Linked DNA regions of Homo sapiens: region 1 is linked to region 2. Evidence: fine-mapped expression QTL. A gene starts in region 2. The other region holds a variant in brackets. All regions are shown on one strand. Distances are between the middles of the regions. Region 1 overlaps LINC01643 (long intergenic non-protein coding RNA 1643). Region 2 holds the start of LARGE1 (LARGE xylosyl- and glucuronyltransferase 1).

Region 1 (2,901 bases), 180 kb before region 2:
AAACAATGCCTGGCATAGAGTAGAAATTCAACAAATATGCATTGCATGAATGAATGCTTGCAGGAATTAATGAATGGTGGTGGTAATACAGCCTCATGGTTAGAACTACAGGCTTCAAAACCTGACATCTTTGAGTATGAATTCTGGATTGAACATTTAGTAGTTACCTGAACACAGGCAAGTCAGTGAACTGCTCAAAGCCTCATTTTCTTCCTTTGTAAAACAGGGTCAAATATAGTATTTATCTCGTAAGGTGGTTATGAGAATTCAATGAGAACAACACTGGCCAAGTACTAAGCACAGTGGCTGGCACATAACCTCAGCAAATGGGCATTACAATTATCCTCCTATTTTCCCCTATTCTGTAATACTCTTCCTACTATTGCCAATTAATGGAAACTACAATTCTTTTTTCTATCTTACCTATAGAAAGTCTTCCTGAGGAGACTCTGGTCTAATTGATTCTTTCTCTATTGCCATATTGAAGTTCCATCTGCTTGCAAATTACTGTAGAATAAGAATAGAATGACAATTTAGTTAGCATCTACTATGCTCAGGCATTTGATATATACTGGATTATCTCTTTCACCCACATGGAACTCTGCCAGGGGGAAGAGCAGACAGTGGCAATTGTGCCGTGATATCTGTTTGAAACGCTTGTTCTTCAGTGCTGTAAAGAAATAGCACTTGAACATAAATCTCAGCAAAGCTATTTTTATACTTTCTGCAGAAAGGGTACACTCACCAGCAGTTTTGCCATGAGAGTACACTGAACAAAGGAGACAGGGTCATTTATAACCTGACGCTTCCACCTTACTGCTGTGTCCGGTTTCTACTGGCTGGAATGGGACCTCACATTCTGTATTTGCCTTGATTGGCTAGCAACTTAGAACTTTTTAAAAGAGGCAAAGGCAGGGGAGAACAAAGGAAGGAGGAAGTAACTTGTGGAATGCTGAGAAAGGTAAAAACACCTTCAGATAAGGAAGAGGAACAGGCTATGACTTAATGCTTGCTTGGACTAGTATAAGCATGCCAGGGCAAATATTTAGGCTAAATTGTGGGAGCTAAGAACATAAAGCACATCGATTTCTTTATTATGGCTAGCAGATATTTAAGAATATTAGCACAGGTCTTTGAATAAATTTTGCTTTTAAGAGAAGTTGCTATTTATTCCTAATTAGACTGGGAGGAAAGTCTTTGAAGAGGAACCTCTACTTTATTTTTCATGTATCCATTCTACCTTCTTTTTTAGTGATAGAGTCATAATTGCTTGGGGAAGGAGGAGCAAAGAGAACATTTCTCGGACTCCCTGGCAGTCAGTTGTGGCCATGAGACTAAGCTGTGGCCAATTAGATAAAAGCAGAAGGAAACTGGTTCAGCAGGAAAACTAGCCTATATTTGTC[C/T]TTTCCCCCACCCCACCCACACAGTTCCTGCAACCTAGAATGTGGAGGTGGGGGTAGGGATGGTCCTTAAAGGTAGCTTGAATCTTGAGGTGAACATGAGGATGGATGAACATGAGGATGGTGGGGCAGAAAAATAAAAGAAACTTGCACACTAGCCCTAGAATCCCTACCTACACACTACATTTCTGGGAGAAATAAAAACCGCATTTCTATTTCATTCAAGTCAGTGGTATCTGAGCTTTTCTATGATAAGTAGCAAACCCTAATCCTAACCTTTACTATAGGCATCATAAGCCCATGGTATTAATGAAGACTTGGAACTCAGGAAGAGTGAATAATTTGTCCAAGATTACACAGCTAAAAAGCCACCAACCTGGTATTTGAATGTTGATGAACTTCATTCTAATAAACAAGTTTTTTCCATTAATCCTGCAAGTTAGGTCTCAATTCAGGGCAGAAAGGATCTCAGAGGGGTTTACCTCCAACCCTCAGGCAATAGGGAATCCTTTCTCCAGCATCCCTGAAGACCACCCCAGCCTCAGGCTTAATGGCCTCTGGGGACATAAAACTCATGACTCACTGTTCAATCCTTTATTTATTTATTTATTTATTTATTTATTTATTTATTTATTTTTGAGATGAAGTGTCTCTTTGTTGCCCAGGCTGGAGTGCAGTGGCACGACTCCAGCTCACTGCAACCTCTGCCTCTCAGGTTCAAGCAATTCTCCTGCCTCAGCCTCCTGAATAGCTGGGACTGCAGGCACATGCCACCACACCTGGCTAATTTTTGTATTTTTAGTAGAGACTGGGTTTCACCATATTGGTCAGGCTGCTCTCAAACTCCTGACCTCAGGCAATCCACCCACCTCGGCCTCCCAAAGTGCTGGGATTACAGGTGTGAGCCACCGCGCCCGGTCCTCAATCCTTCATTTTTCAGAAAGCTCTTCTTTGATGTAACAGCTGAAATTGACTTTTTTTATAATGTCCACGCCATAATTGTGAACTTTCAAACCAGTGAGACCTTGTGGTGTCCACTTGGCTCTTCAAACCTTTCAGGACAGCCTTCAGGTGTCTCTTGGTCTTCTGTATGCCAACTACAATGAATCCTCATTCATTCATAACACAGAGGAGGGATGCTTATGTGCCAAACACTGGGCTATGCACTGAGGCAGATGTGCTGGCTGACCTCAAGGAGTTTGTAGTCTAACGGGACTCCCTAAAAGGGCGTGGTCTCTTTTGGTCCCATTTAACTGTGCCAATTTCTTTCGGAAGAATGGTTCTTATGAGTAGTGTTTCCAATTATGGGGAGATAGACTCATAAACTTAGATTCTTTGTGTCCACCTATCTTAGCCCCTTTATATTTTCTTTTCTTTTATTCTCATCATACTCCCCCTGGAGAACTCAATCGTGCCTGGAATTTCAGTGGTAACCTAAACGCCAACCAATCCCAGGCCTTTATCTCTAAACTCTCTCTTAGGCTCCAGACTCAAATGTAAA
Region 2 (2,901 bases):
CCCTTGCCGCCCCACCCCCCCAGCCCGACCTCGAGGAGTGGGGTCAGCTGGGCAACCCAAGCTCGGCGGCCCTTTCCCGCGCGCCCCCTCCCCAGCCCATCCTTCCCCTGCCCCTTCCAAGAACTAGGGTGGGCTTCCCGCTGCCTCGCTCGAGTCCTGGAGAGCGGAGAGGCGCGCAGAGGGAAGGCAAAGACCCGGCGGCCCGCCCGGCTGGGGAGAGGTGGAGACCCGGGGGGAAGGGGACCCCAGAAGCCCTGGGACCGAGCTGCGGAAAAACCCGGGAGCTGGATCGCGCGCCCGGAGCTCCGGTCTCCGAGTCCGAGTTGTGCAGCTCTCGGCGTCCTCTTTCTCTCCCTGCCTCTCTGCTTTCGCCTCCTCTGGGTCTTCTCTCGAGGGCATCCTCCTTCCATCCATTCTCACACCCCCGCTCCTGTGCCCCGACCCATTTCACCCACTTCTCCTGTGGCTCGGGAGGACTCTCCGTACCCCCACCCTGGTCCCTAGAACTGGGAGGCTGGAAGTCCATTCAAGGGATGTTGCGCGCCGGGTTCTTATGCCAAGAGGGAAAGAGCGAGAATAAAATCAGCAGGGGAGGGGCGTGTTGTGCGTGCATGGGGTGTGTGTTTGGGGTGGAGGAAAAAGAAATGTAGTTTCCTCAGAGGAAGAGGAAGCCTTGGACAGGATTCTTGGATACCGATCCCAGAAAGATGCCGTCAGAGCCCTTCGGCGGGGCTCCTCACAGACTCCGGCTGCCCCACAGCATGCCCACCTCCGAGAGAAGCTGCGACCCGAGGCGGGGAAACTTCCTACTTCTCACGACGGCTGTTTTGTGCAATTTGGGGAGCAGGCTGCATGGTCCTGCAAGCCTGCGAGCCTCTCTACCACGGCAGCTGCGGGCCCGTCCCGCTTCCCTTCCCCCTTTTTCCGCGAGGCACGCCAAGCCCGAGGCGGCCGGGAGCCGCCGGGGTTGGGGGAAGAAGGGCGGGGAGCTCCCAGCTTGCACCCTTTCATCCCGACCCGGCCCGGGATCCCGGCTCCGGGTGTTGCTTCCGCCTGCCTGCCAGCCAGCGAGCTGAAGAAGCACCGGGGCGGAGTCTCGCCGGGGGGCGGAGCCTGTGCGGGGGCGAACTCTCGGTCCGCGCGGCTGCGGCGCTTGCCATTGGCCGGCCGCTCGGTCACGGGGTCGGGGGCGGGCGCCGACGCGGGCGCCGGCCCCGCCCCCGCTCGGAACCCAGCCCCGGCTCGCGGTCCCCCCCGGCTGCACAGACATGACACAGACACACAGTCACTGCAGCTGCTGAGCGAGTCCGGCGCTCTGGGCACGCGGAGGCGGCGGGGCCAGCCCGGAGCCCGGACCCCAGCGCCCGCCCCTGCCGGTTCCCGCGCGGCGGCCCACTCCTGGCCGGGCGCGGGAGGCGGGGATCGCGCGCCGGCTCCGGCCAGCGGCGCCCGGCTGCCCGCGGCGGCTGCAGCGGCCGCCCAGCTCCGAGCGCCGGGCGCTCCGGGAAGCCGGCGCATCTCGGAGGCGGCGGCGGCGGCCAAGGCCGGCGAGCGCTCCCGGCGGCGGGGGCCGCCCGCCTCGGCTCCCCGCACCCACCGCGCCGCGATCCACTCGCCGCGCCTCCGCTCCCGTGACCTTCCCGGGGCGCCTCCCCTAGCCCCGCGCCCCCGGCCCCGCGCCCCAGGCCGGGGCGAGGCCTTTTCCGGCGCTTCTTTCCCGCGGAGCCGCGGGCGGGCGGCGCAGGCCCTGGGGGAGAGCGCGCCGCGGCCGGTTGCAGCCCCCCCCGCGCCGCCGCGTTCGGCGCCCGGCCCGGCCAGTCTGCTCCTGCCCCGCCGCCGCGCCGGAGCCCGGGCGCCCGAAGCTGGGGGCGCGGCCGCGCTCGTCTCGCCGGGCTGTTCGCGGGCAGGCCCTGCCCTGAAGGGACGAATCGGCTTGGAGCGCGGGAGGTGGAGTCGGCCCCGGCGGTCGCTCCCTGGACCCAACCCGAGGCTGACCCAGGCCCCTGCCCATGCGGGGCGCCCCTGGCTCGGAAGAGTCCCCCGGGCCGGGAGCAGCTCCAGGCAGCGGCCCCGGAGGAAGAGGAAGAAGGGACAGTGCTCAGCTTGGGGGACCCGGACCCTCGCCGCGGCATTTGGAGCCGGGGGCAGTCCCGAACTCTGTGCTTGGCACCGCCGCTCCGAGTAGGGCAGCGCCTGCCGGGACCCTGACCCGGACCCCCTGCGCCTCGTAGGCGGCGGCGCCGCCGCGCCACCCTGTTCTTCCGTGTCTCCCTCTGCCTGGCGGCAGTCACGGCCAAGGTAAGAGCCCCGGAGCGCGAGAGTCGCCGCGGGGGCGCCGTGGTGTGTAGCGCCGGACAAGTTCTCCGAACCTGTGGCTGGTACCCCCTGTACTCGGGATGCCGGCGGGGAGGCCGGGCACACCCTCTGCTGCCCCGGCCGGGAGCCCTGGAGAGGCTGGAGGTGGAAGCCCCCAGTCTCCGAAGTCCCCAGGACCCCCTCAGGGCCTGCTCGGCTTCTGGGCACACAGGCTGCTGGCAGGGAGCGAGCCAGGAGGAGTTTCTGGTTAACACCACGAGGGCATGTGACCGATACCCGCACCCCCGGCCCTCTTGTTAGCGGTGAGCACCTGTGGTTCGCGGAGCCTGCCGTGTTTGGAGAGGGCCCTGTTGGGCGGTACGCAACTACCTTTCGTGGTGTGATGCTGTGAATAACTTTTCTTGTTCCTTCTTGCAGACAGTCCTGCGCAATTTGGGGGCGAGCAGCCACAGCTTGCGAGTCCCTCTTTAGGACAGAGTGGTTGGTTGGCATTGCTATCTGTAGGGGGGAAGCCCAGCCAGCATGTCCTTCCTGTTAGTCAAAGCTGCTTGTGAGGAGTGATCAGTGTATAGCTATCCAGACATT

What was found. PIP is the estimated chance that this variant, and not a neighbour inherited with it, causes the effect.
Region 1: its variant is fine-mapped to the expression of LARGE1 in nasal epithelium (TOPMed, PIP 0.99).

What each region holds. Positions count from the first base shown.
Region 1 is chr22:34,097,964-34,100,864 of GRCh38, reverse strand. All of the region lies in intron 2 of LINC01643 (long intergenic non-protein coding RNA 1643), which reads right to left. Among named protein-coding and RNA genes, the nearest start is that of LINC01643, 82 kb to the right of the region's middle. The variant C/T (reference allele first, on the strand shown) is at 1,404.
Region 2 is chr22:33,919,392-33,922,292 of GRCh38, reverse strand. LARGE1 (LARGE xylosyl- and glucuronyltransferase 1) reads left to right here and starts at 1,817. Exons shown (of 15, transcript NM_133642.5): 1 at 1,817-2,298. LARGE1-AS1 (LARGE1 antisense RNA 1) reads right to left here and starts at 1,068. Exons shown (of 2, transcript XR_001755630.2): 1 at 770-1,068. RefSeq lists silencers at 950-1,449, 1,770-1,919, 2,190-2,289.